Regions from separate parts of the Homo sapiens genome. Here all the other regions are reported to be linked to region 3. The links are microRNA targets in miRTarBase. Many come from high-throughput screens and were not tested one by one. Region 3 holds a microRNA gene; each other region holds the end of a gene's coding sequence.

The links. Region 3 holds the annotated microRNA hsa-miR-4504 (UGUGACAAUAGAGAUGAACAUG, at 3,617-3,638, opposite strand). A microRNA usually pairs through its seed, bases 2 to 8, with sites in the 3' UTR of a target mRNA and lowers its output. Matches are read on the target gene's strand: a 7mer-m8 pairs with bases 2 to 8, a 7mer-A1 pairs with bases 2 to 7 and ends in A, and an 8mer does both.
Region 1: the mRNA of UBE2A is a reported target of hsa-miR-4504. Seed matches in the 3' UTR shown: 7mer-m8 at 7,728-7,734 and 7mer-m8 at 6,726-6,732.
Region 2: miRTarBase lists RFWD3 as a target of hsa-miR-4504. Seed matches in the 3' UTR shown: 7mer-m8 at 2,933-2,939.

What each region holds. Positions count from the first base shown.
Region 1 is chrX:119,580,683-119,591,042 of GRCh38, reverse strand. It overlaps UBE2A (ubiquitin conjugating enzyme E2 A), which reads right to left. Exons shown (of 6, transcript NM_003336.4): 4 at 9,447-9,536; 5 at 8,367-8,455; 6 at 6,620-7,916. The coding sequence ends at 7,788. It overlaps NKRF (NFKB repressing factor), which reads left to right. Exons shown (of 4, transcript NR_163972.1): 4 at 1-2,706. Among named protein-coding and RNA genes, the nearest start is that of UBE2A, 11 kb to the right of the region's middle.
Region 2 is chr16:74,614,966-74,624,519 of GRCh38, reverse strand. RFWD3 (ring finger and WD repeat domain 3) reads left to right here. Exons shown (of 13, transcript NM_018124.4): 13 at 449-3,121. The coding sequence ends at 592. Among named protein-coding and RNA genes, the nearest start is that of GLG1, 13 kb to the right of the region's middle. RefSeq lists an enhancer at 3,260-3,759.
Region 3 is chr14:50,296,255-50,306,614 of GRCh38, forward strand. It overlaps MIR4504 (microRNA 4504), which reads right to left and starts at 3,692; the gene lies at 3,601-3,692. It overlaps L2HGDH (L-2-hydroxyglutarate dehydrogenase), which reads right to left. Exons shown (of 10, transcript NM_024884.3): 2 at 6,648-6,763; 3 at 5,763-5,914. RefSeq lists an enhancer at 3,234-3,927.

The sequences.
Region 1 (10,360 bases), not on the chromosome of region 3:
TAACAGCCAACATGTATTTTGACAGTGGGAACCCTGCCCCAAGCACCACATCACAGCAGGCAAACTCTCAGTCAACTCCTGAGCCTTCACCATCACAGACATTTCCCGAGTCTGTGGTAGCCGAGAAGCAGTATTTTATTGAAAAATTAACGGCGACAATCTGGAAGAACCTTTCTAATCCAGAAATGACTTCTGGATCTGATAAAATTAATTATACATATATGTTAACTCGTTGTATTCAGGCGTGTAAGACAAATCCTGAGTATATATATGCTCCTTTAAAGGAAATTCCTCCTGCCGACATCCCCAAAAATAAAAAACTTCTAACTGATGGCTATGCTTGTGAAGTTAGATGCCAAAATATCTACTTAACTACAGGTTATGCTGGCAGCAAGAATGGGTCCAGGGATCGAGCTACAGAGCTAGCTGTAAAACTCTTGCAGAAACGTATTGAAGTTAGAGTTGTCCGGCGGAAATTCAAGCATACATTTGGAGAGGACCTCGTGGTGTGTCAGATTGGCATGTCCTCCTATGAATTTCCTCCAGCTCTGAAGCCACCAGAAGACCTGGTGGTGCTGGGTAAAGATGCTTCCGGGCAGCCAATTTTTAATGCTTCTGCCAAACACTGGACCAATTTTGTCATTACAGAAAATGCAAATGATGCAATTGGTATCCTTAACAATTCTGCCTCATTCAACAAGATGTCAATTGAATACAAATATGAGATGATGCCAAATCGCACATGGCGTTGTCGAGTGTTTTTACAAGATCACTGCTTAGCTGAAGGTTATGGAACCAAGAAAACAAGTAAACATGCAGCTGCCGACGAGGCTTTGAAAATTCTTCAAAAAACACAGCCCACTTATCCATCTGTCAAAAGTTCACAATGCCATACAGGCTCTTCACCCAGAGGATCTGGAAAGAAGAAAGATATAAAGGATCTTGTAGTTTATGAGAATTCTTCAAATCCCGTGTGCACGCTGAACGACACAGCTCAGTTTAACCGAATGACAGTTGAGTATGTCTATGAAAGGATGACAGGCCTCCGCTGGAAATGCAAAGTGATTCTAGAGAGTGAAGTAATTGCAGAAGCAGTTGGGGTGAAGAAAACTGTCAAATATGAAGCTGCTGGGGAAGCTGTGAAAACCCTCAAAAAGACCCAGCCAACTGTCATTAACAACTTGAAGAAAGGAGCTGTTGAAGATGTGATTTCAAGAAATGAAATTCAGGGCCGCTCAGCAGAGGAGGCTTACAAACAGCAAATCAAAGAAGATAATATTGGAAATCAGCTGCTGAGAAAGATGGGTTGGACTGGTGGTGGTTTAGGTAAATCTGGTGAGGGCATACGGGAGCCTATCTCAGTGAAAGAGCAGCATAAGCGGGAAGGGCTTGGTCTGGATGTAGAGAGGGTGAATAAAATTGCCAAGAGAGATATTGAACAGATCATCAGAAACTACGCCCGCTCCGAGAGCCACACAGATTTGACTTTCTCTAGAGAGCTGACTAATGATGAACGGAAGCAAATACATCAGATTGCCCAGAAGTATGGTCTTAAGAGTAAGTCTCATGGGGTGGGCCATGATAGGTACCTAGTGGTAGGTAGAAAAAGACGGAAGGAAGACCTACTAGATCAGCTCAAACAGGAAGGCCAAGTGGGCCATTACGAGCTTGTTATGCCTCAAGCAAATTGAGATCTTACTAATTTATTTTGTAAATGCCTAATGAGGCAGATTTTTGAATTAAAGAAATGCTACATGTTCCGGTTGCAGAGTATATTCATAAGATGTCTCACCTTGTTCATTTCACATAGTGGTTTATTAGATATTGGAACCTAAAGAATTCTGTCCACTTGTATTAGCTTAATCCAGCAGATGATATTGTGCAGTTACTGTTTGTGTCTTTGATATTGCTGTGTCCCTCAGATTTTAGTAGTTTGACAAGCAAGAACACATATCCAAATGGAATTTTACCCTGAGAAATTATCATTTTAAAGGGCATAGCACAGCAATCTGCAACAATATGTAAAGTTGATATTGACTACAATAAAAATCCAGTCTTAATTCCAGATTTACTGAAAATGTCAGATCATTTTGTATTAATCTATTTTCATCTTTGTGTGAAGCCAGTTATAGAATGTTTGACAATAAATTGTGCTGTACACGTAAATGTCCTTACCAACTAAATGATGTAAAACTTTCTTAAAGTAATTTTAGTGTTCATTTATTTATAACTTCTACCATGTGATTTCCAGACTATTGGAAGTGATTTACTGTATCTTGTGATATATGGGTTTTAACAAATTCTAGTCTTCACGCTGAGAGAGCACTACTTGAGAGAGCAGTTGAAAGTTTCAAAAACTTTGGTTCAATCTGAAGAAAGGAAGCTTGAACTGTTTGTTCTTGGTGCCTTGCAGAGAGACTCACAGCAACTCTCCATTATAGCTTTCACACGGTTTGGATGTGCAGCACATCCAAGGCAACCACAGCTGTGGTAGAGCTTGGTAAAAGACTGAAGATACATTGGTGCTTTGATGAAAAGGTCAGTTGGCTGGTCCCTCTCTCAAAAAGCTTATTAAGCCTGAAAAGCCAACTTTGTAACATATTTAAAACTGCTATTTTCGCTTATTTCTGGAATGTAAAAAAAAAAAATGTATAAAAAGAATTAGTGTATGCTTCCTGAATAAAAAGGAGCCAAAGTTGATCAGAATGGTGGCGTGCTCATTTCCGGGCAGCAGCCTTGTAGCAACACTGGGTCTTTGGAGAAGGGAAGTGGTGTTTGCACAGAATAGTTCAGCACCCAGAGCACATGTGGATGAATGTCCGGATTTAACAGATAGGAATCAGTCAACTATCACTTTTTTCCTATGGACCAACATGCTGGCTTCAACCAAATCTTTGGCTGCCCCCTTTTATGTGATTTTATTTTTGTATCTCAGATAAATCAAGTATAACCTCATAACAGCACAGGTGAATTTACCATTGCTCACTAGACACCTCTAATGAAATGATGTTCAGGACAATTAGGTGGTTTACAGTGCTTGACAACATTTAGCACCGTGCTTGACATGTAATTGGCCAACAAGAAATCGTAATTTCCTTTCCCGTTTTTTGTTTGTTTGTTTTTGAGATGCAGTTTCGCTCTTCTTGCCCAGGCTGGAGTGCAATGGTGCAGTCTCGACTCACTGCAACCTTCACCTCCTGGGTTCAAACGATTCTCCTGTGTCATCCTCCCAAGTAGCTGGGATTACAGGCACCCGCCACCACGCCCGGCTGATTTTTGTATTTTAGTAGAGACGGGATTTCACCATGTTGGCCAGGCTGGTCTTGAAGTTCTGACCTCAGGTGATCTCCCTACCTTGGCCTCCCAAAGTGCTGGGATTACAGGCTTGAGCCACCGTGCCTGGCCCTGTTTTTTATATTTTACATTAAGCAGCTGCCCACTGTAGTTAAATTAATGCTTAAAAAATATAAAGGGATTAGCCTTTACACCTGGATTTCTGTAACTGGTACTCATCTACGGTAACTAAACAGTGTGATAATTGTTTTCCATTAACCGTCTTCCTACAGTGCATAGCCTTTCTTAATGTCGGTAGGAAGAGAAATGAGGTGTACATTTTATTTTGCCACTTCATATTAACATTGGCAAAAAAAACTAAGCAAAATGTTTATAGATTTTGTAGGATTACAATTTGTTTTTTGAGACAGGGTCCCACTCCGGTTACCCAGTCTGGAGTGCAGTGGCGCAGTCTTGGCTCACTGCAACCTCCACCTTCCGAGTAGCTGGGACTTCAGGTGCGCACCGCCTGGCCTGGCTAATTTTTTGTATTTTTAGTAGAGATGGGATTCTGGTCTCAAGCTCCTGGAGTTACGCAGTCCACCCTTCTCAGCCTCCCAAAGTGCTGGGATTACAGGCATGAGCCACTACACCCGGGCTACAATTTTGTTTTGTTTTTAATTTACAAGGTTCATGCCAACCTTCAGAAGCTATGGTTGAATTTGTGAGTTAGAAAAAAACCTGTTTTCAATTCTCTGAGTAAGAGTGGCTTTGGGATTAAGGGATATGAAAACTTCACTGATTACTCTCTTTACATTTCTTTCTTCCCCCAAATGATTTTGAGGCAGGGAAAGGTAGGGGATTGTTAAATATAATCTGGTTTGTCTAGGTGAGTCCAACAGAACAGAATATTAAGGTAGTTACAGTTAGGAAGGCTCCCAAATAATTGCACCAAGTAGATACAAATTTGGTTACTGGATTTGAGGGGCCAGATTGCCTAACTTCTTAGGATCTGTGATATTGATACAGAATTAGAGCAAAATCACTTAACTTGCTTGAGGATAAAATAATGTTGAGAATGGCGTTGGCATGAATGAGCTGCTGACAAGCTTGCTGTTGTTCCATTTTGTTCCATTTTGTCCCCTTTCAGTTGGTTACTGTATTTTCCCTTTCTTTGAAATGTAGTCATTCTTAACCCAGTAACCTTCCTATACAATCTGTACAGGTACATGAGCAATTTCAAATTTTATTTGGATTAAGTGTTTTTTATACTGAGGAACTAACTGTTCTTTCCATTTTATATCTAGCTTTTAGTATCACAGATCTACTTTTTGGATTTTTTTCCTCCCCTTTGATTGCAAAATGAATGGCAATATCATGCACTTTGTTGGGATTCTTTTTTAGTAGTATACAATGCATTCTCTTTGCTATGAGTAACCCCTGAAGCTGGAGATGGGTCCTAAATAAAGGATTCTAATTGCAGCTTTGGTTCTTCATCATACCTCCTTCCCCACATCAGCACGTGCAGAATTGAAAAGTTCAAACCTGACTGCCATTTGAAAAAGGGACATTGCAAATTTGTTTTCATTAACTTTGTTATCAATACATGTAGCCTGTGGTGTTAAAAATTTTAAAGGGAGAAAGAGGCAATTAGCATGAAATGTTCAAATGAATGGTTTGTGGTGCCTTTGACCATGCATATGTTGTTTTGGGAGGTCAGCTTGTTGGCTCTGTTGTAAGGTTTTAAATGGATTATCCTGTGAAAGAGATTGGGTATAGTGTTTCTCAGGTGTACAGAAGAAAAAAGTTATTAAACCTGACCATTCTGAGTCTCGCCTTACATTGTTTCAGGTATGATTAACAGTGTCAATTTAAAGCACTCAGCCACATAGCAGGATGAAAAAGTTAATGTAAAACTAATCCACCAAATAGAAAAATTTAATGTGGTTCTACTTTGAAGCAGAAATGGACTTGAGGGAAACTATTAAGCAAATTGAAGGACATTGCTCCTAGGTGAAACAATCCAAGTAATGTGGTAATTAGTACAGATTGTACTCCATACTGAGGCTTCAAGTACCATGTCTTAAAAGATGAGTGAGATACATGTGTCATAAGGACTTAACTTCATTTAGCCCCATCCACCCAACCAAACAAGTACCAAGAGGTGGTAGTTTTTACAAAGTCATTGTCCTTGCCTCTTTCAAATGAGATGGGTTGCTCCTCAGAAGAAAGTAGTTTTGTTTAATCAAAGTGATTGAGGATATCTGTACTCCCAAACTTTGCATAGGATTTAAAATACCATCTAGGCCGGGCACGGTGGCTCAGGCTTGTAATCCCAGCACTTTGGGAGGCCGAGGCAGGTGGATCATGAGGTCAGGAGGAGTTTAAGACCAGCCTAGCCAACACAGTGAAACCCCATCTCTACTAAAAATACAAAAATTAGCTGGGCATGGTGGCGAGCGCCTGTAATCCCAGCTACCCAGGAGGCTGAGGCAGGAGAATCGTTTGAACCCAGGAGGCAGAGGTGGCAGTGAGCCAAAATTGCACCACTGCACTCCAGTCTGGGCGACAGAGCTAGACTCCGTCTCAAAAAAAAAAAAAAAAAAAAAAAAAAAGTTTGGTACTGTTTGTTTTTGAGCTAGGGCTTTTAAAGAGGTGGTATGTCAGGATCAACAAGTTAGATCTTGGTCTCTGAGGGTGCTGATAAATACCTAGGTTGGTTTATCCCTGCCCCCCGCACGCCCCCCATAACCTCATTCCCTTGATTGATTATAATGTATACTGAGGTAACTTTATTTAATAATTTTACATTCTGTTAAATTTTTTTTTTTTTTTTGAGAGGAAGAAGTCTCACTCTGTCACCAGGCTGGAGTGCAGTAGCGCGATCTTGGCTCACTGCAACCTCCGCCTCCTTGGTTCAAGCGATTCTCCTACCTCAGCCTCCCAAGCAGCTGGGACTACAGGGGCATGCCACCACGCCTGGCTAATTTCTTTTTGTATTTTTAGCAGAGACAGGGTTTCACTGTGTTAGCCAGGATGGTTGATCTTCTGACCTCGTGATCTGCCCGCCCTGGCCTCCCAAAGTGCTGGGATTACAGGCGTGAACCACTGTGCCCGGCAACATATTCTGTTAATATATTTAAAAAGCATTACCACTTATGACTGGAAAGAAAAAAAAAGTTCTCTCCAGAAGTATCTGTCTTGTCTTTTCCCCTCCCAGAATGAGTATTTTTGCTTTTACCTTAATGTTTGAGGGGGGAAATGAGTACATATGAGATCCCAATAAGAAACCAATACAAAAAGTTTATACTGAGCTAAAAAAAAAAAAAAAAAGATACCTTGACTATGAAATTTTAAGGTTATTTTTATTTACAACTTTTGAAAAATGTACATTTTTTTTTACATGGGTTACTTGTGCAAAGTTAGATTTGGAAGTGATAAATGCATAAAAGGTGACAATAGAACATTAGACAAAACATTTACAAGCCTTGTCCCATACTGCTACTTAAAGGTACTATATATCTAAAAGTATAAATATCCAAAAAAAGATCGCAGACATTGGCTTTAAGGTTCTCAGATGCTGAAAGGGAAGAAATTAAAGCATGCAGCAATAACTCAGGATTTGAGTGGAAAATAGTTTGCCACAGATATGCTATGCTCCCTTCCTTGAATTCATTAAAACTCTAAAATAAAGATGGACAATTGAGTTTATTCACTTAGGGCAGCACTGATCCTTTAAAAAGATTAAAGGAGCTCCAACTTTCCCTAGCTCAAAAACTCACGATTGTTTCCATTCCTCTGCTCCCACACCTCTTTTAAAAAGCAAAAACCCAGAAGACCAATAATTCTGAAACTTGGCATGAGTGTGCCCAGTCAGCAGCTTGCAAAGAGAGGATGTGTCAGTTACTACAATTGCTGTACTCCTTTAGCTGAGTCCTTCAACTTTCTCCTTCTTGCCAGTAAATACTACGTTGTAATTCATATGACTGAGATCTTAGTATCACAGGATTTTTAGCTCCCATGCCTCCTTCAAAATTGTTTACATGGATTTGTTTCTATTCTCTGTAGGCCATATTCCAAACACATTCACTTCTAAATCCAACACAAGTGAAGGACCAGCCAGGATGAAACACTTCAGCAATCATTTTGTTAAAAATAACATCCTGGTCATCAAGCTAAGCATAAGCACCTCTTGTATAACAATTCATCTTAAAAGCTTAAAGTACAATAATAAAAATAACTGCCTGAAAACTGGAAATGAAATACAACAGAAAAACTGAAGCATTAGTAATTTTTGCAAGTAACCCAGGTACAGTACATTTGATTTCATAGAGGGTGTTTTCTGATGTTTAAGGAGAGGGTAGAAGGGGTAGGAAAACTTGGCAAGGAAGATGGAAACAGCACAACAGTTATTTTGCTTTTAATAAAGTAAATGTAATGACAGGAGTAGGGAGGTGACAAACACATCAATATATATTTTTCTTATGGCCAGCTTCTTTAAACTGTACCCGGGGTCAACAATCACGCCAGCTTTGTTCTACTATTGCAGAAACACGCTTTTCATATTCCCGTTTGTTCTCCTGGTACAGCTGAGCAGCCTGGCTGTTTGCTGGACTATTGGGATTGGGTTCATCCAACAGAGACTAAAGAGACAATTTTTAAAATGTCAGTTCCTTAATGCAAAACAACTATTTTATAAGGTAGTGACACTCAATTGAATTGTCCTAAGTACAGCTACATTTCTTGTCTTTAGCATACAAACCCAGAGTTATGTGAATCTGCTAGTAGCTAGGAAAATATATGCGGCTTTTTTTTTTTTTAAGGGAGAAGAGTCTCACTATGTTGCCCAGGCTGGTCTCAAACTCCTGAACTCAAGCAATCCTCCCACCTTGGCCTGCCAAAGTGCTGAGGTTACAGGTGTGAGCGACTGTACCCAGCTGACTTGGGTCTTAATGGTCTACTTTTCATCTATAAAACAAACAAGCTTTGACCAAAAATAAAAAGATCTATTACATTATGACTTTCAAAAACAATTCAATTGCTAATATAAACATATTAAAAGTTATAGTTCGTCACATTAAGGAAAAATTCACCTGTATGGATGTTAGAATGGAAGACACATCATAGGTTGGACTCCAACGGTTCTGAAGTATGTCCAGACATATACTACCATCTGCATAGACTAAGAACAAAGAAGTAGGTACATTAAACGTAACAAGACCACTAAGGTTTTAACATTATAGACAAAACAAAAATAGTCAAGAATACTTTGCTTTTGAAGTTTAAAGATTCCTATGTTGCTTCCCAGTTAACTGCCTAAAAAGATAAGTCATAACCACCACTAGTGAAATAATCAGGATGATCAGAGAATGTCAGATGTGATCAGTATAAAACTGGAAGATATTTAGTGTTCATCCTTTGGAAAAGGCTGCCCTATTATCCAGGAAATCAGAAACATTTTTGAACAGGGTCCCTAGCTATCCACAGACATGTGGGAAATTCATTCCACCAAATTTGTAGGCTGTATCCCCTATCTGAAATAACAAAAGATCACTCAGAGTTCACAAGATTTCATTTTGGCATAAAGATAAACATATCTGATACCCTGAAAAATACTTCATTAACCTAAATAAAAGGCAAGCTGTTCTAGGCTTACTACTATTTTAAAAAGTGCAAAGTGGTTAAGTTAGAATCACCTGTGGTGCTTTTCTGACAATACCGTATGCCTGGCCTTCAACAACAGAATCCTATTCATTAGGTTTGGAGTGGGGCGAAGGCATCTGTGTTTTTAAAATGTTCCACAGTAATTCTGATATGCGTCCAATGAAAACTACTTTTCTAAACGCTAGTGAAAATAATTACAACACAAGACTATCCCAATCTGGCCTAGCATTAAAAGGAAACCTCAAGAGCATCCTTCATTTTGTTTAATAAGTAAATGACAAAGGTCATCAAAATCAGGAGGCTCCCAGACTCCAAGCAAAGGGAAAATACCTCCACTGCTTCAGTTCTAGGACAAGACAGCCACAGACAACCAAGAACAAGTTCAGCTTTCAAGAAGCAGCAAGCTGCCTAAACAAATACTCAGGCACCACAAAATACACAGGAAATGTGGAATACTCCATAATAAACACTATAGTAGTTTAAAACACTGTACTAAAAGTGATACTTGCCATTTGGATGGAACATCTTAGAGACAAATCTAACTGTAGGTGGTTTATTTGGATATTCTTCAGTGAATTCTATTGTAAGTTTAAATGTTCCTGTGGTTAGAAAAGAAAGATTTAAGAAAATGTATTTATCACTTTGTTCAGTAGTACTTTGTTTTTAATGCTATGTGGGTTTTTCCAAGTATTAAATAATGCAAAGATACAGGGTAGAGAGGAAAGGCCAGGTAAGAAATACATCTCTAGGAATTGCTCTAAGAACTACTCAAATGTGATTTTTTGTTTTGCCATTATTTTCCCCCAAACTTGGAGACAGCCATCATAAACACAAAATTACTGCTTACAAGATTTTAGCCACTGTACATTTTGAAAACATCCTTAAGAAACTGGGCCCAAAATTTGGCCTTCTTCCTTTAGAAGACCAAAAGACCTCAAAGGCCTATGTTAGTCAGCTGCCATCTTAAACGCTCCAGTGATTTTTAGACAGACTAGAAAGAATGAAAGCACAATGGTTCAAAAACCAATGCCAGAATACAAATCCATAATCAAGTTATTTTTAAAATAGAAGGGAATAAGTATAAAAGTGTTCATACTGGTTCCTTTTCATGTCATAGTGACCCTATAATGAAAACTTAATTGAATTTAAGCCAGGAAAAACTTCATAGTCCCTCTCAGAAACCCTTAAGTATGGCTCATAAGGTACTTCACTATAAAATCAACTCAATTATTCACACATATGGAGGGAATTAATGGCAGAAATAATTTTAAAATCACATTTGGTTTAGATTGCATTCATGTTTCCAGCAAATTTATTTTTCTAATGTTTATGCTACTATTGAAATGAAATTATTTTTCTTAAATATATGTCAACCTAAGGTAGCAGGAGGCCCTAAAGCATAGTAGGTTATAAACTTACTTAC
Region 2 (9,554 bases), not on the chromosome of region 3:
GGAGGCTGAGGCATGAGAATCGCTGGAACCCAGGAGGCAGATGTTGCAGTAAGCCAAGATCGTGCCACTGCACTGCAGCCTGGGTGACAAGAGTGAGACTCCGTCTCAAAGAAAAAAAAGGGTGAGTTCCATGAGGGCAAAGACAGGGACTTTATCTTATTGACCCTTCTGTCCCTAGAAGAGGCTGGCACATTGAATGAATGGAAGCTGGGCTTTATTTCAGGTCCACTTACAGGTAGACTAATTGCTGATTACAGTAGGTGAGGCTGTACCTGAACTATGTCAGGTGTGCTGACTTTGAACAACCTTGCAAAGGTTAGGGACAGCCTGCTTTGCTCTCCAGGTAGTGTTCTCTCTGCAGCCTTTCAGACTTGTTAGATGATGAAGAATGGAAGTCCCTTCGTGTACTGACTGACTCCTGACCCTTCCCTCTGCTTGTGTTCTTTAGCTGTGGGATGCTGCCAGTGGCTCGTTGCTCCAGGACCTACAGACCGATCAGCCTGTGTTGGACATCTGCCCATTTGAGGTGAACCGTAACAGCTACTTGGCTACCTTAACAGAGAAGATGGTCCACATCTATAAGTGGGAGTGACTGTGGTCTCGAAACCTTGAAGGCATGCTGCTGGTTAGATGTTGTTTGCTAGCGCCTAGCAGCCCCAAGCAAGATCCCTGTTTATTGTCTGCAGTCTAGAACATTGGGAATCATGGTTTGTTTGCATTAGTATGATTCTAGGACCCTAGGTCACTGAGACACTACAGATTGTGTATCTGTTATGTCCACTAAAAGAGTAATTGATGGGTACTTTATCTACATTATCCATTTCTTGGGTTTAAAGCCTTCATTAACCATTATTGTATGTTGGAAATTCTTATTTTCTTTATTTTCTGTGTGACTTTCTGGACCTTAGAGAGTGTCCTCTCATCATCTAGGATGTGAGTGGGCATCAAGCATTTTCTGGGGAATATGACATCCCATCTGAGTTGTCCTGTCACTTAAGTATCCTTGAAGGGACTAACCATCGTCTTGGTACTGATTTGATGCAACGTAGATGTAAAAGAGTATTATTCAGTTGAACACAAGAGGGCACTGTAGAACCTTGTGTCCGGTTTATTTCTGACCTTGAAGGCTGACAATCTTTTAGTAACTTGTCTCATCTCCACACAAGTGTGTGATAGCACACCTGGGTGTGCTTTGTGGCAATAACACTTGTGTTCCAGGTGTGAAGTGCTGGGACATTGGCAGGCCCAGTGATGGAAGCAGCTAGTGAACGATTCCCTTTGCTAATGCCTAGTGCATTAAGTTCATTGCTTTGCGAAAGGTAAGGAAAGAGGCCAGTTGTTTGAGCGGTGGGGAAGATTTTGTTTTTTCTAGCCAGCTTAGGATCTCAGGATTGGTTTTATCCAAGCTAGTGCTTTGAAGAACACTATCTCTTGCCAGGAAAAGATGAGTGATAGGTCAAAGCTTTTACTTGAGTCTCCCCTAGTGTCAGAGATCAGGAGAAAAGACATAAGAGAATTTACAAAAGCTATTCAGACTGCTATTGAAAACATGAGAAGAACTTGTCTCCCATTTTGAGAGTTCCTATCTAAATAAAGCCAATTCCTCAGACTGAGGGGCTGTTCTTAAGTGTTCTTTATACATTCCAGTTATCCAGTTAAAGCCTTCCCCATGTGAAGCTGATGTTTGATTCCAGTTTCCTTTGATTTGCCTCCCTAACCTTTTCTAGGGCTCAGTTTGTATTTCTTTGCCTTGCCTCAGACTACTTTGCCAACCCACTTCCACAACAGAATATGCTTCAAGATGTGGGCAGGTCAGTGTCCTGTTCATGGGAGAAAATGGCTTAACAGTCTGATTTTCTCAAATGATTATTGAAGAGTTGTTATCGTTTTTATTATAAAACACTTCTGACCTGTCAATTCAAGAGCTGTTTCTAGGATCTTTCTCTCCGGCAAGGGGTTGTTGCACTAGATTTCCCCAGAGTTCCAAGTTCTAGTTGTGCCTTTTAATGACCCTTTAATATTTTAGGACATAATTTTTTCCTTTTTTAAATTTTTTTGTAGAAATAGATGTTTCACTACGTTGTCCAGGCTGGTCTTGGACTCCTGGCCTCAAGCAATCCTCCCACCTCAGCCTCCTAAAGTGCCAAAATTATAGGCGTGAGCCACTGCACCCGGCCCCTATTTGAAGACGTCTTTTGTAAAAGCTAGCTTCTAGAACCTGAGAAAAGCTCTTTTCTCAGAGGAGATACTCCTTTTGATATGTTAATGATTAAGAGTGGTTGCCCAGGCCTAGTTTCAGTGGCAGAATAGGATTGGAATTAAAAAGCAGAACTCATCTGGCTTCAGCAGATTGCCACCAAGAGGATACAGGTGGTCAGGTCCTGGCTGGCTTTGTCTTTGGGCCTGGGCAGGCTTAGGATTTGACTTTCTTTGAAGTACCTGATGCTGATTGATTCCACTAATAGTAGGAAGCAAGAGACTTAACTATGAGGGACGTTATGTGAATCTTAAGTCTTACCAGTCCTTGCATTAGTACATTAAATTTGGATGTTTTGGAAGCAAATTCATACGATCGTGAGTGATTTCTCCAAAGAAAAAAAGCCTTGTCCAGCCTGACCAACATGGTGAAACCCCATCTCTACTAAAAATACAAAAATTAACTGGGTGCAGTGGTGCGCATGCCTGTAGTCCCAGCTACTTGGGAGGCTGAGGCAGGAGAATTGCTTGAACCCTGGGAGGCAGAGGTTGCAGTGAGTCGAGATCGCGCCACTGCACTCCAGCCTCGGTGACAGAGCAAGACTCCATCTCAAAAAAAACAAACAAACAAAAAAAAACCCTGATGCCATTCCCAGTCCCCGTTGTAGGACATCACATTTATAAATCCAGGCTTTAGTCTTCTGGGCTCCACCAGTCTCTGCCCCACCATATTCCTTTGTCACTACCTCTAAGTTTTTTTCCCCACTTGAGGATTTGGAGTTAAACGAACTCAAAATGTCTTGTCATTGTATGTATTCTTGCCCCTGCTTTGAAAACAGGGCCATGGGAACTCTGTTTATGCCCTGTTTTAATGTTTCTGTTTTATGTTTTACTGTTAATATGAAAATAAAGAATTTGCTATGTATAATGGCTCCTAGTGCCTTTTGTCTCTTTCACTTCTAGAGGCAGGAACATGTCTGCCTCTTGGGAGAGGGATATAATCCCAACCTGGTAGATTTCTCGGGTTTGTTCGTTTGTTTGTTTTTTGAGACGGAATCTTGCTCTGTAGCCCTAGCTGGAGTGCAGTGGCGCCATCTTGGCTCACTGCAAACTCCGCCTCCTAGGTTCAAGAGATTCTCCTGTCTCAGCCTCCTGAGTAGCTGAGATTACAGGTGTGCGCCATCATGCTCGGCTAATTTTTGTATTTTTAGTAGAGACGGGTTTCAGCATGTTGGTCAGGCTGGTCTCAAACTTCTGACCTTGTGATCTGCCTGCTTCAGCCTCCCAAAGTGCTGGGATTACAGGCGTGAGCTACCGCACCCGGCCTTTTTTTTTTTTTTTTTTTTTAACTGAATCTCACTCTGTTGTCCCAGGCTGGAGTGCACTGGTTCAATCTCAGCTCACTGCAACCTCTGCCTCCCGGGTTCAAGCGATTCCCCTGCCTCATTCCTCTCCAGTACCTGGGAGTTACAGGCGCCTGCAACCATGCCTGGCTTATTTGTCTATTTTTAGTAGAGACGGGGTTTTACCATGTTGGCCAGGCTGGTCTCCAACTCCTGACCTCAAGTGATTTGTCCATCTTGACAGCCTCCCAAAGTGCTGGGATTACAGGCATGAGCCACCTCACCCAGCCATAGATTTTCTCTTTTTCACACAAATGAAGTGGTTGAGGCTTTAGCTTGCGGTTCTGTTTTGCTGTTGCCAGTGGAAAGCGATGTGTTTGCCTCTTAAGAACCCTGTGCCCTGGCCGTGTGGCTCACGCCTGTAATCCCAGCACTTTGGGAGGCCAAGGTGGGCAGATCACCTGAGGTCAGAAGTTCAAGGTCAGTCTGGCCAACAAGGTGAAACCTCATCTCTACTAAATGATATAAAAATTAGCTGGTCGTAGTGGCGGACACCTGTTACTCAGGGGGCTGAGGCAGGGGAATTGCTTGAACCCGCGAGGCAGAGGTTGCAGTTAGCTGAGATTGCACCACTGTACTCCAGCCTGGGTGACAGAGTGAGACTCCGTCTCAAAAAAAAAAAAAAAAAATGTCCTGGTCTTATGTCTATTTACTCTCAGATCTAGGGATCTACATTTCCCAGACTTGTCTGCTGGCTTCCTGCTAGTTTCTTTGAATCCAGGAGACTTTAAAGTGGGAGGAAGAGAGAGGAGGAGAGGACTTTTGTTCCCTTTATTTCTTTTAGTCATTGGTGGCACTTCTGACCGTGGCAGCAGCAATGGGCAAGTATGGGTTTCAGGGTTCCTGCTCAGTACAGTTCTGGCCACCTGCCTCAGTTTCTTTGTTCTGTTTGAGTTCAAGAATCTTCGTTGCCATAAATCATGGTGCTCTGGAATTAGGCTGGAAAGGCTGAAAATGTTTTCCAGTTTCCAGCTGAACAGCAAATGGAGTATACTGGATTCCAGGAGAACTGAATCCATAGGTATAAGCTTACTAACTTCATGGAGCCTGGTGCTCTAAGGGAAAATGACAGAGGTCCTAGGATAGAAGTGAACCCCAAATTACAAAACCCAACACCATTGTTTTTGTTTTTCACAGTACCCTTTTTTTGTTTTCCGTGTCAGTGATTGACTATAAGTGAAATTCTGAAAAAAAATTTTTTTAAGAAACGGGGTCTCACTGTCACCCAGGCTAGAGTGCAGTGGCACTATCCTATCTCGACTGCATCCTCAAACTTCTGGGCTCAGGTAATCCTGTCTCCTCAACCTCCTAAGTAACTGGGACTGTAGTTGTGGACCACTGTGCCCAGCCAATTTTTTTTTTTTTTTGCTTTTTTTTTCTTGGTAGAGACGGGGGTCTTGCTTTGTTGCCCAACTGGATTCAAACTTCTAGTTCAAGCAGTCCTCCCGCCTCAGCCTCCCAAAGCATTGGGATTGCAGGCATGAGCCACCATGTCTGGCCAAAATTCTAAAAATAGACATTTGTTTGTCCTTGTTCTTAGTCAACTTATGTTTGTTGGTAACACTCTCTGTTTTATCTCTTTATGGTTTACTAATATATTAAGTAACATCTTAGTAAATATATATTACTAATAAGTAATTCTTAATGTTATGGAATACATATTATTATTCTATCTTACGGGGGAAGAAACAGGTTAAAAATACTAATAAAGCTTGGGTGCAGTGGCTCATGCCTGTAATCCCAGCACTTTGGGAGGCCAAAGAGGATGGATCACCTGAGGTCAGGAGTTCGAGACCAGCATGGCTAACATGGTGAAACCCTGTCTCTACTAAAAATACAAAAATGATCCAGGCATGGTGGCGTAAACCTGTAATCCCAGCTTCTTTTTTTTTTTTTTTAGACGGAGTCTTGCTCTGTCTCCCAGGCTCGAGTGCAGTGGCACGATCTCAGCTCACTGCAAGCTCTGCCTCCCGGCTTCACGCCATTCTCCTGCCTCAGCCTCTTGAGTAACTGGGACTACAGGCGCCTGCCACCACACTCGGCTAATTTTTTTGTATTTTTAGTAGAGATGGGGTTTCACCGTGTTAGCCAGGATGGTCTCGATCTCCTGACCTCGTGATCTGCCCGCCTTGGCCTCCCAAGGTGCTGGGATTACAGGCGTGAGCCACCACACCCAGCCCCAGCTTCTTCTTGAACCTGGGAGGTGGAGGTTGCAGTGAGCCAAGATCGCGCCACTGCACTCCAGCCTGCGCAACGGGAGCAAGACTTCACCTCAAAAAAAAAAAAAAGAAAAAATCCTAATAAAGGAAAATGACAGATGGTATTTAATTAAATTTTATATGTCCTCGTCTTCCCAGTCTATACTTTGTGTTACCAACAGCAAAGCAGGAGTTGGAGAGCCTGGGTGAAAGCTCATTTTCACTCTTCATAGCTCTGTCTCCAGAACACCCTAGGCTAAGCCCCCACAAATTATTTCTTCTGCATTGAAAATTACAACAAAGCAGACAGTCATACTCATGATGTGGCACTACAGTCTTCAAGTAGTTTTCTGGGTGCTGAGGCTGGGAACCCCACTGTCCAATAGAAGAAAAAACGGGTTCATAGAAGAGGCTATGACACATGGGCTAGAACTGCCCAGCAGTGGTCATCGGAAAGGTCAGCTGAAGAGAGGAGGAAGGTGGAGGAGCTGTTGGGCTTGCTCTAGAAAGCAGGGTGCAGGGCCAGCTGAATAAGGAGTCTACTGTCGAGATGTGAGGAGTGCCATGAACCCACGCTGGTCCCTGAGGAGTAATAACAGGTTTATCCAGTTACAGACACCCAGCAGAAAGGCTTCCTTAGAGGCTGAACATAGGTACCAACTTAAATATCTGGATTTGGATAAAGGGAGAGTTGAAGGCTGAGGGGGAAACAAAGTTCAGGACATCACTGAACAGATGCTTGGGTTAAAAAAAAAAAAAAAATGGCCGGGCACGATGGCTCACGTCTGTAATCCCAGCACTTTGGGAGGTCAAGGCAGGTGGATCACGAGGTCAGGAGTTCAAAACCAGCGCGGCCAACATGGTGAAACCTCGTCTCTACTAAAAATACAAAAAATTAGCCAGGCGTGGTGGCAGGCACCTGTAATCCCAGCTACTTGGGAGGCTGAGGCAGGAGAATTGCTTGAACCTGGGAGGCAGAGGTTGCAGTGACCCTAGACTGTACCACTGCCCTCCAGCCTGGGCAACAGAGCAAGACTGTCTCAAAAAAAGAAAACAAAAACAAAAAACTGGCACTTTTGTTACCTAAGCCAGCTCTGTGTGAGCTGCCAACAGTTGGATAAGCTGCTGGTTAATGAAAGTTGTAAGTGGGAAGTTGGCAGGCCACTTATTTCCTGGAATAAAGAAGGGGATGCCTGCCCTGGATAAATGGTTATGCTCTGCCTTCAAACTCCAATGCCTGTAGACCCTCCCATTTAAGAGAAATGTCACCAGAGTTAAAAAGAGTGCCTCCAGGAGGGTCCAGGGGAATTCCCAGGCTTGAGCTATGGAGGGGGTGTTGAGTGATGATGTGGCTTCCTCCTTTCTCATAAGCCTGGTACAAAAAATTGCTGGTTAGATTGTGCAGGAACATATGGGAAACAATGAGGGCCTAACATGAGAAAGGGTGACAGGGTAGGGGGGAAGATGGGAAATTGCCACGGAATCTAAGCTCAGTGAAGTTCTGACACCTCACTTGTACCCCAGTGGAAGCTCCAGAGTTAGCGATGACCCCAGTTCCTCTCTTGAAGATGATGTCCTGACTTGAGATAGAGAGATGGTATTTCACTAGGCAAACAGTATGCTACCCCCTCAGCTCACAGGAGTCACTTGCCCTTGAGTCAAGGAAGTAAACGAAATATCAAATGCTAACATTTGTTTCTCTGATTGAGACCCTCTCCAAAAGACATGATATTCCTGCAAACTGGCAAATTGCCATAAAGGAAGTAATATTCAAACTACAGTCCGGTCTCTACTGTCTACAGATCAGAATGCTGGGTGAGTTTTTCTTCTCCAGGAGTCTTAGATTCTCGTCTAGACAGTCACTGAGGTTGCTGTGACAGACAAGTTCAGGTCTCTTAGCTGGATAATGTGGGGGTGTCTAGAAATATGTTACTTGTTACTCTTTTTTTTTTTTTTTAATTGAAATGGGGTCTCACTCTGTCACCCAGGCTGGAGTGCAGTGGTGTAATCTCGGCTTGCTGTAACCTCTGCCTCCCAGGCTCAAGTGATCCTCCCACTTCAGCCTCCCAAGTAGCTGTGACTACAGGTATACACCACCATGCCCAGCTAATTTTTTTATATTTTTAGTAGGGACGGGGTTTCGCCATGTTGGCCAGGGTGGTCTCAAATTCCTGGCCTCAAGTGATCCACTGCCTCAGCCTCCCAAAGTGCTGGAATTACAGGCATGAGCCACCACGCCTGGCCTGTTATTTCATTTTTAATCCCTTAAGTCTTGTCAATATGAAGTCACCAATGTCCTAGCTTAGTAGTCTAAACAATTTCTTTTTCTTCCCTGAGACTGAGTCTCACTTTGTCACCCAGGCTGGAGTGCAGTGGCATGATCTTGGCTCACTGCAACCTCTGCCTCCCAGGTTCAAGTGATTCTTCTGCCTCAGCCTCCCGAGTAGCTGGGATTACAGGCGCATGCCATCGCACCTGGCTAATTTTTTTTGTTTTTTTTTTTAGATGGAGTCTCACTCCTGCCAGGCTGGAGTGCAGTGGCGCGATCTTGGCTCACTGCAACCTCCGACTCCTGGGTTCAAGCGATTCTTGTACCTCAGCCTCCCAATTAGCTGGGATTACAGGCGCCTGCCACCACGCCCAGCTAATTTTTGTATTTTTAGTAGAGACAGGGTTTCACCATGTTAGCCAGGATGGTCTCGATTTCCTGACCTCATGATCTGCCCCGCTTAGCCTCCCAAAGTGCTGGAATTACAGGCATGAGCCACTGCACCCGGCTAATTTTTGTATTTTTAGTAGAGACTGGGCTTTACCATGTCAGCCAGGCCAGTCTTCACCTCCTGACCTCAGGTGATCTGCTCGCCTTGGCCTCCCAAAGTGCTGGGATTACAGGCGTGAGCCACCACGCCCAGCCATGCTATGCCTTTTATATGAAAGAGATTCTCTAGTTAAAGAAGTTACTCAGATGTGGTGACCTTGAAAATGAGCCTCTCAGATCTCCAGCTGTGGGGAACATGATTGACCTCTGTTTGATCTGCTGAGCACTGAAATCTACAACTGCATTCATCCCAAGGATCCTCCTAGTCTTGACTAAGAGTGATAGGGCTACTGACGCAGGCCCATTTCTGGAAGACTCAGTGACAGGTAACTTTTGCATGAGGACTATCCTATGGCCTTGGCCAACTTTCTTTTTTTTTTTTTTTTTTTGGAGACGGAGTTTTGGTCTTATTGCCCAGGCTGGAGATCTTGGCTCACTGCAACCTCCGCCTTCTGGGTTCAAGTGATTCTCCTGCCTCAGCCTCCCGAGTAGCTGGGAATACAGGTATGCACCACCATGCCCGGATAATTTTTTGTGTGTTTTTAGTAGAGACGGGGTTTCTCCATGTTGGTCAGGCTGGTCTCGAACTCTCGACCTCAGGTGATCTGCCTGCCTTGGCCTCCCAAAGTGCTGGGATTACAGGCGTCAGCCACCGTGCCGGACCTTGGCTGACTTTCTTAGAAATGAATTTCAGTTTAAGTTGAGTCTTAGATGTTTCCACCGAATCCTCCCGTCCTTCCTTCCCTCCCTCTGTACTTCACACAGTGTTGGACCAGCATCATGGTCACATGGCTCTCTCAGCCACCTCATTTTTCCTACAACTGTTGCCCCTAATAAATTTCTTGCATAGGTAATCCCCTTTTGTTGTCTGCTTCCTGGCAGACCTGGACTCACACAAGTAGTGCCAGGAGTGTTCCAAGAAAACAGGTGGTAAGACGG
Region 3 (10,360 bases):
TCCCAGCTACTAGTGGGCTGAGGTGGGAGGATCACTTGAGCTCAGGAGGTCAAGGCTACAGAGAGCCGAGATTGCACCACTGCACTCCATCCTGGGTGACAAAGTGAGACCCTGTCTCAAAAAAAAAAAAAAAAAAAAAAAAACTTATATGAAGGACATGACTACCAACACTGCAGAAATAAAAGGACTTATAAAAGAATACTATGAACAACTGTATGGCAACGAATTAGAAAATCTAGATGAACAAATTATTAGAAAGACACAAACTTCTGAAACGGATTTGAGAAGAAAAACTTAATAAACCTATAACACATGAAGTGATTGAAAACTTCCCACATTAAAAAAAAAAAAAAAAGCCCAGGCCCAGAGGCTTTATTCATGAATGCTACCAGATGTTAAAAAAAAAAGTAATACTAATTCTTCATAAACTGTTCCAAAAAACAGAAGAGTAAGAATCACTTCCCAACTAATTCTGTGAGGCCAATATTAGTTTGATACTAAAACCAGTGCTCTGGTTTCTCTTCAGAAAGAAAAAATATTTTGCCTTTTACCAAAACCAGATATCGTAAGAAATTGCAAACCAATATCCCTTAAAAATATTAATGCAAAACCCTGAACAAAATACTAATAAACTGAATGCAGCAACATATAGAGAGGATTTTACACCATGACCAAGAGGGATTTATCACAGGAATGTAAAATCAATTTAACATCCAAAAATGTATTAATACACTACATTAATAGAATAAAGGATAAAAACCACATGATCACCTTGATAGAAGCAGAAAAGGCATTTGAGAAAATTCAACACCTTTTCATGATAGAAAACATTCAACAAACTAGGAATAGAAAGGAACTTCCTTAATCTGATAAAGGGAATCCACAGCTAACATCATACTTAAGGGTAAAAGATTGAATGCTTTCTCTATTAGATCAAGAACAATTCAAGAAGGTCCACTTTTACTACTTCTGTTCAACACAGTATTGGAGCTTCCACCCATGGAAATCAGGCAAGCAGAATAAGTAGTTAAAAGACATCTAAATTGGAAAAGAAGTAAAACTAACTTATTTGCAGATGACATGATCCTGCATATAGTAAAGCCTAAGGAATTCATAGACACACACACACACATACACACACAATTAGAACAAAATGAGTTCAGAAAGGTCACTGGATTAAAAAAAATCAACATACAGAAATCAATCATATTCTATGCATTAGCAATGAATTATAAAAAATGAAAGTAGGAAAACAATTCTCCTCACAAAAGCATCACAAAGAATAAACTACTGAGCACTACAGACCAAATGGACCTAACAGATATTTACAGAGAGTTTCATCCAACAGCTACAGAATATATATTCTTCTCCCCAGCACATGGATCATTCTCAAGGATAGACCAATATGTTGGGCCACAAAACAGGTCTTTAAAATTTTTTTTAAATGAAATTATATCAAGTATATTCTCTGACCACAATGGAATGAAACTAGAAATCAATAACAAGAGGAATTTTGGAAACTATACAAACACACAGAAATTAAACAATATGCCTCTGGCCAGGCATAGTGGTTCACACCTGTAATTTCAACACTTTGGGTGGCCAAGGTGAGAGGATCACTTGAGCACTTGAGCCCAGGAGTTTGAGACCAACTTGAGCAACGGAGGGAGATCCTAACTCAAAAAAAAAAACCAAAACGAACAACAACAACAAAATGACTGGGCATGGTGGCTCATGCCTGTAATCCCAGCAATTTGGGTGGGTAGATCACTTGAAGTCAGGAGTTTAAGACCAGCCTAGTTAACATAGTGAAACCACATCTCTACTAAAAATACAAAAATTAGCCAGGCATGGTGGCGTGAGCCTGTAGTCCCAGCGACTTGGGAGGCTGAGGCTGGAGAATTGCTTGAACCCAGGAGGTGGAGGTTGCAGTGAGCTGAGATGGCACCATTGCACTCCAGGCTGGGTAACAGCAAGACTCTGTCTCAAAAAAAAAAAAAGAAAAATTAGCCAGGCATGGTGGTGCACCTGTGATCCCCATTACTCCAGAGGTTGAGGTGGGAGGACTTTTTTTTTTTGAGACAGAGTTTCGCTCTTGTTGCCCAGGCTGGAGTGCAATGGCGCGATCTCAGCTCACTACAACCTCTGCCTCCCAGGTTCTAGCAACTAACCTGCCTCAGCCTCCCAAGTAGCTGGGATTACAGGCATGAGCCACCACACCCAGCTAATTTTGTATTTTTAGTAGAGATGGGGTTTCTCCACGTTGGTCAGTCTGGTCTCGAACTCCTGACCTCAGGTGATCCCCCGCCTCAGCCTCCCAAAGTGCTGGGATTAGGGGTGCGAGCCACCATGCCCGGCCGGGAGGTCAAGGCTGCAGTGATCTGTGAGATAGTGCCACTATATTCCAGCCTGGGTGAGACAGAGACTCTATCTCAAAAAAATAAACAAACAAGCAAACAAAACCAATACGCTCCTAAATGACCAGTGGGCCAATAAAGAAATTAAGAAGGAAATTTAAAAATCTGTTGAAACAAATGAAAATAGAAAGACAACATACCAAAACCTATGGGAAACAGCGAAAGCCGTACTAAGAGGAAAGTTTATAGCTATAAGCACCTACATCAAAAAAGTAGAAGAACTTCATATAATCTAACAATGCATCTTAAAAAACTAGAAAAGCAAGAGCACACCAAATTCAGAATTAGTAGAAGAAAATAAATAATAAAGATCAGAGCAGAAATAAATGAAATTGAAACAAAGAAAACAATACAAAAGATTAATGAAAGGTTGGTTTTTTGAAAGGATAAATAGAATTGACAAACCTTTAGCCAGACTAAGAAAAAGAGAAGACCCGGATAAATAAAATCAGAGATGAAAAAAGAGACATTACAACCAATACCACAGTAATTCAAAAAATTGTTAAAGGCTACTATGACCAACTATATATGCCAATAAGTTAGAAAACTTAGAATAAATGAATAAATTCCTGGACACATACAACCTACCAAGATTGAACCATGAAGAAATCCAAAACCTGAACAAACCAATAAAAGGCAATAAGATCGAAGCCATAATAAAAAGTCTCCCAGTAAAGAAAAGCCCAGAACCTGATGGCTTCACTGCTAAATTTTACCAAACATTTAAAGAAGAACTAATACTAAACCCTACTCAAACTATTCCATAAAGTAGAGGAGGAAATATTTCCAAACACATTCCATGAGGCTGGTATTACCCTGATACCAAACCCAGACAAAGACACATCAAAAAAATGAAAACTATAGGCCAATATTCCTGATGAACACTATACAAAAATCCTTAACAAAATACTAGCAAACCAAATTCAACAACACATTAAAAAGATCATTCATCATGACCAAGTGGGATTTAACCCAGGGATGCAAAGGATGGTTCAACATATGTAAATCAATCAAGGTGACACATCATATCAACAAGATGAATGACAAAAACCATACAATCAGGCCAGGCGTGGTGGCTCACACCTGTAATCCCAACACTGTGGGAGGCCAGTTCAGGTGGATACATAACAAAAGACCAGTCAGCCTTAAAAAAGGAGAAAATCTTTAAGATAATGAGAAATACTTAAGATAATATCCTCCATGTTCATCTCTATTGTCACAAATGGTCCATGCCACAAATGACAACAGAGATGAACCTGGAGGACATTATCTTAGGTGAAATAAACCAAGCACAGAAAGATAAATACTGCGTGATCTCATTTACATGTAGAATCTCAAAAAGTTGAACTCACAGAGGTAGAGAGTGGAATGGTGGTTACCAGGGGCTGAGGGTGGCAGGGAGGCAGGGGTGGTGTGGAAAGATATTTGTTAAAGGACACAAAATTTCAGTTAAGTAAGAGGAATAAGTTCAGGATATCTATTACACAAAATGTTGATTATAGTTAATAATGTATTATATTCTTGAAGACTGCTCAGACAGTAGATTTAAGTGTTTGCATCATAAAAAAAAAATAAGTATGAAAGGTAATGCATATGTTGGTGAGCTTGATTTAGCCATTCCACAATGTACACATACTTCTTGAGACAGAGTCTCACTCTGTTGCCCAGGCTGGAATTCAGTGGTGTGGTCTCGCCTCACTGCAACCTCTGCCTCCCAGGGTCAGGCAATTCTCGTGCCTCAGCCTCCCGAGTAGCTGGCATTACAGGCGTGTGCCACCACACCCGGCTAATTTTTATATTTTTAGTAGAGATGGGGTTTCACCATGTTGGCCAGGCTGGTCTCGAACTCCTGACCTCAAGTGATCTGCCTGCCTCAGCCTCCCAAAGTGCTGAGATTACAGGCAGGCGTGAGCCACCCTGCCCGGCCCATAACGTATACATACTTCAAAACAACATGTTGTACATGATAAATATTTACAATTTTTGTCAATTAAAAAATAATTTTAGGCCAGGCACAGTGGCTCACATCTGTAATCCCAGCACTTCAGGAGGCCAAGGCAGGAGGAGTGCTTGAAGCCAGGAGTTTGAGACCAGCCTGGGCAACAAAGCAAGATCCTGTCTCAACTTTTAAATAAGAAATAAAGTTAAAAAATAATAATTTTAACTTTTTTGAGGCAAGGTCTCACTCTGTTGCCCAGGCTGAAGTGCAGTGGCATAATCATGGATCACTGCAGCCTTGATCTCCCAGGCTCAAGCAGTCCTCCCACCTCAGCCTCCCAAGTAGCTGGGACTATAGTTGTGCACCACCGCACCCGGCTAACTTTTTAAATTTTTTGTAGAGATAGGGTCTCACTATGTTGCCCGAGCTGGTCTCAAACCCTTGGGCTCAAGAACTATTTTCTAAAAAGGAAAAAATAAAAGACACTCAACATCATTATCACTAGGGAACTGCAAATCAAAACTTCCACTAGGATGGCTAAAATAGAAAAGACAAACCAAAATAGATGTTGGCAAGGACATGGAAAATTGGAATCCTTATTAATTACTGGTGGGAATGTAAAATAGCACAGAGCTTTGGAAAACAATTTGGCAGTTCCTCAAAATGTTAAACATGGAGTTACCCTGACAATCCAGCAATTCCCCTCCCAGGTATATAACCAATATAAATGAAAACATATGTTCACAAATAAACTTATACATGAATGTTCATAGCAGCATTATCCATAATAGCCAAAAGGTGGAAACAATCCATATGTCTATCAACTGATGAACAAATAAAATGTGGTATATCCATACAATGGAATATTGTTCAGCCATAAAAGACATGAAGTACTGATTCATGCTACAACAGGGATGAACTTTGACAACATTATGCTAAGTGAGAGAAGCCAGTCACAAAAGACTACATAGTATATGAATCTATTTATATGAAAAGTGCAGAACAGGCAAATCCACAAAGACAGAAAGTATACTAGTGGTTGCTAGGGCATCGGGGGAGGTAGAAATGGGAAGTGACTGCTAATGGGTATGGGGTGTCTTTTTGGGGTGATGAAAAAGCCTGAAATTAGATAGTGGTGATGATTGCTCAGCTCTATAAATATACTAAAAATTGATCTGTGCACTTTAAAAGGGCGAATTGTATGGTGCATAAATTATATGTCAATAAAACTTTTATTTAGAAAATTACATAACGTCACACCATCTTTTTTTAGTTATTCCCTAAGATTAGATTTGAAAAATTACATAGATACAAAGAAAAAAATACATTTTTAAAAAATGTAATATTAAACATCACTAAGCAAATGCTAGTTGGAAATTAGTCAAGGCTCTAATAAAATGCCATACCTTGCCACACTGCTTGTAGGAAATTCCCTTTTGCTGACAGTACTCATAGAGGAGGGCTGCACCTTGTACACATAATTTGGCTTTCAGAGACTCAGGTTTATAATAAATTCCACTATGTATGACACCACTGTTATGTCCAGTCTGGTGAACAGCTACAGAACAAGAGAAACAGGGTAAGAGTAAGTACATGATTCATACAAAACATAAGAGGTAAGAGAACAAACTTATAGTTGAAGCTATTAGAGACCACATCATGTAAAATTCTGCCTGAATTTGTTCAGATCACTGGTAACTTCTTCTAACATCCCTGGTATCCATGTCACATCCCTCCAGCCCATCTCTGATTTCAACTACAACTTTGGTGCACAAACTCACCTCTCATTACCAGCAAACCACTTCAGGGGCCCCCTAGGGCTCTTTGCACTCTGCCTTGGGGCCTCTGGTAACTTTTTTAGAGAAGGGCACGGGGTGCTCAACATCACTAGCGGCAATCCTCAACCAATAGAGAGAAGAGCCGATGGATAAAGTGAGCACAATCCTGGGAAATACTACATTGCTCCTCAGAGGCTCCGGTGGAATCAAGCTCACAGCCACAATCTTGATGTGTTCTCATGTCTTTTCCTCCTTCCCTGTCTTACTTTCCTCACCCCCTCACTCCTGTTTCCTGAGATAACCTCTCAAATAAATAACCTATAGACACGTCCTCCTTGTCCCACACTCGGCTTTAACCTCTCAAATAACCTATAGCCATGTCCTTGTCCCACACTCTGCTTTTAGAACACAAACTAAGAAACTAACACTGACATTCAGCATGAAAGATTCACAACAGACAAAATGAGCAGATGCCCAAGTAAGCCCAAAGAACAACATTGATTATATACATACCTAAATCTTTCTCCTTTTCCAGAACACCAATAGAAAGTGATGGATGTCGCAGGATGAGTGCTCTGGCAGAGGCAAGCCCCACAATTCCGCCACCAACGATGACTATATCAAATGAGCTTCAAAAGAAAGTCATCTTTAAAGTAATTCATATTTACAGTAGACCTCGCCAAACTTCACATGCATAATTTTCATCAATGGACAATTAAACCATTAATTTGTAATCATGAAAACGTATTCGGCGGCCGGTCGCAGTGGCTCACACCTGTAATCCCAGCACTTTGAGTGGCCGAGGGGGGCGGATCACGAGGTCAAGAGATCGAGACCATCCTGGCCAACATGGTGAAACCCCGTCTCTACTAAAAATACAAAAATTAGCTGGGCGTGGTGGCGCGTGCCTGTAGTCCCAGCTATTTGGGAGGCTGAGGCAGAAGAATCACTTGAACCTGGGAAGCAGAGGTTGCAGTGAGTGGAGATCACGCCACTGCACTCCAGCCTGGTGACAGAGCAAGGCGACAGAGCAATGTATTGGGCCCTGTGCTGTTTGGTTTCACATGTATTAAAAAAAAAAAACCCTTAAAAGTTATACTAATCAAGCCTGGGTGTGATGGCTCATGCCTGTAATCCCAGCACTTTGGGAGGCCAAGGTGGGTGGATCACTTGAGGTTAGGAGTTCAAGACCAGCCCGGCCAACATGGTAAAACCCCATCTTTACTAAAAATACAAAAATTAGCTGGGTGTGGTGGCAGGCACCTGTAATCCCAACTACTCGGGAGGCTAAGGCTGGAGAATCGCTTGAACCTGGGAGGCGGAGGTTGCAATGAGCCGAGGTCATGCCACTGCACTCCAGTCCAGCCTGGGAGACAGCGCCAGACCCTGTCTCAAAAAAAAAAAAAAAAAGTTAGACGCATTAAAAAAAAAAAAAAAAAACCTCAAAAGTTATACGCATCACTGGTCAGTAGTATAATCAACTACAGCTTACTGGCAGGCAGGATAGCTGGTTGCCCAATCTGCTCTTTATCTCCATAGCACGGCAGCCAGGCTGGTTACATAAGTGACTGCAGTCATGCGTTGCTTAACCATAGGGTTAGGTTCTAAGAAATGCATTGGTAGGCGATTTCCTTGTGCAAACAGCATAGAATGTACTTACACAAACCTAGATGATATAGCTTACTGTACACCTAGGCTATATGGGATAGCTTATTGCTCCTAGGCTACAAGCCTGTACAGCAGGTTACTATATTGAATACTGCAGGCAACTGTAACACAATGGTAAGTATCTGTGCATCTAAAAATGTGTACATATAAAAAAGGTACAGAAAAAATATGGTATTATAATCTTTGGTATCACCACTGTACATGCAGTCTGTGGTTGACCAAAATGTTGTTATGCGGTGCATGACTATACTTTGTGTTAAGCATAGTCATGATTCTACTACCCAGCCTTTCAAAATTCCAATGTAGTACTCTTGACAATGTGTTAACACATTAAAGCTTTAACACTTTAGTGTGCAAGAATTTTTACAAGTTTTTCTTTGAGAAGTAAACAACTCCGAGAAAATAAACCTTGGGGCAATAATTGGTCCAGAAATGGGCTTAGGAACCACAATCTTTGCCATGGCAAATCCTGATTATACAACCATTTACAAAATTAGGGCCGGGCGTGGTGGCTCACGCCTGTAATCCCAGAACTTTGGGAGGCCAAGGCGGGCAGATCACGAGGCCAGGAGGTTGAGACCATCCTGACTAACACGGTGAAACCCCATCTCTACTAAAAATACAAAAAATTAGCCAGGCGTGGTGGCGGGCACCTGTAGTCCCAGCTACTCGGGAGGCTGAGGCAGGAGAATGGCGTGAACCCAGGAGGCGGAGCTTGCAGTGAGCCAAGATTGCACCACTGCACTCCAGCCTGGGCGACAGAGCGAGACTCTGTCTCAAAAAAAAAATTTAGAACAACCATGTATAATTTATATAAATCTGCAATTCGAAGCTTAAAAGATTACCTTTAACACTGACCTGATAGCCAACAAATATGGATCTTATAGGAACTGTAGACAGAGGGAAATTTCAGAGATTAGGCCCTTTCTTCGAAAAGTGATCTAAGTTTCAATTTCAAAATCCTTAGCAAAGCACATCAATTTGATTAGAATTGCTACCACATCTTTGGCTGTATCTGGAACCAGAAACAGATCCTAGACAACTAGGAACTAACACGTAAGCTTGATAAATCAAATCCTGCATCTTAAATTAACTTGGGGGTCATAAGTGGATAAAGTTCCCTCTGTCAGAGCATAAGCCTTATACTTGAACAGGGAGAACCTCCAGGTGATGCTCAGCAGGTGGTTCTCCTGCAGCAGCTTTAGATTGGATAAAATGGTTGTCAAGGATGGTGAATGATGCCCACTTTTAAAAAGAGAGGGCATAAAAAGAGCAGCACAAGTAAAATGGGATTCTGGGTCCACTACATTAATACTAGTTATTGGCAAATGCCTACAGTGGTCAACTAAAAAATTACTAATGTGATCAGAATGTATTTGGAAGTCCAAGCCTTTAAGCAGGTTTTAAAAAAACATAAGTTCAGTGGATAAAAGGTAAAGCATTCACATTCCACTAGGTACTTACACTGATTTACAGATTGACCCTTTACACAACTTTCACAATAAACAGATGTTTTATGGATTCTAAAATAGCCTGGCTTTTAAGAATTCCAGAATAACTATTGTTAAGATAGGCTTTTTATTTTTCAAAACCTCTATAATCTTCCACTAAGGTAGGTGTTCAAAACACTTACAAATACTTAAGATATTTGTATGTGTATTACTTAATCATATTTTATATACAGTCATCCCTCAATATCCACAGGGGATTGGTTTCAGGACTCCCATGGATACCGAAATCCACGTATGTTCAAGTCTTGTATACGAAATGGCACAGTATTTGCATATAATCTACACACATCCTCCAATATACCTTAAGTCATCTCTGGATCACTTATACTACATAGTACCATGTAAATGCTATGTGAATAGTTGTTATACTGTATTTTAAATTGTGTTATTTTTTACTGTTTTTTCCAAATATTTTGATCCATAGTTGGTTGAATCTGCAGATGCAGAACCCACAAAAACGAGGACTGACTGTTTTGACTGACTTTTTTTTTTTTTTTTCGGTGAGATGGAGTCTGGCTCTGTCGCCAGGCTGGAGTGCAGTGGCATAATCTCGGCTCACTGCAACCTCCAGCTCCCGGATTCAAGCGATTCTTCCACCTCAGCCTCCCAAGTAGCTGGGACTACAGGTGCGCGCCACCATGCCCAGCTAATTTTTGTATTTTTAGTAGAGACGGGGTTTCACCATGTTGGCCAGGATGGTCTCAATCTCTTGACCTCGTGATCCGCCCACCTCAGCCTCCCAAAGTGCTGGGATTACAGGTGTGAACCACCGTGCCCAGCTGTATTTTTTTAATTTATCAAGTTGATATCTATATCAATTACATGGCAGTGTGTGTATAAGAGAGATATCTTTCATACTGTTTTTCTTTCTTACTTTCAAGTTCAACTATGATGCTATGTTTTGCCTTCAAGGCTCATTTTCTGTAAAAGGTAGCATAACCTTGGCCCTTACAGGGGTGGTCTTGACTTCCATAATAATGCTTCTCATCCTTGCTGCCTTTTGTTTTTTTTGGGGGGTTTTTTTGTTTTGGGGTTTTTTTTTTTTTT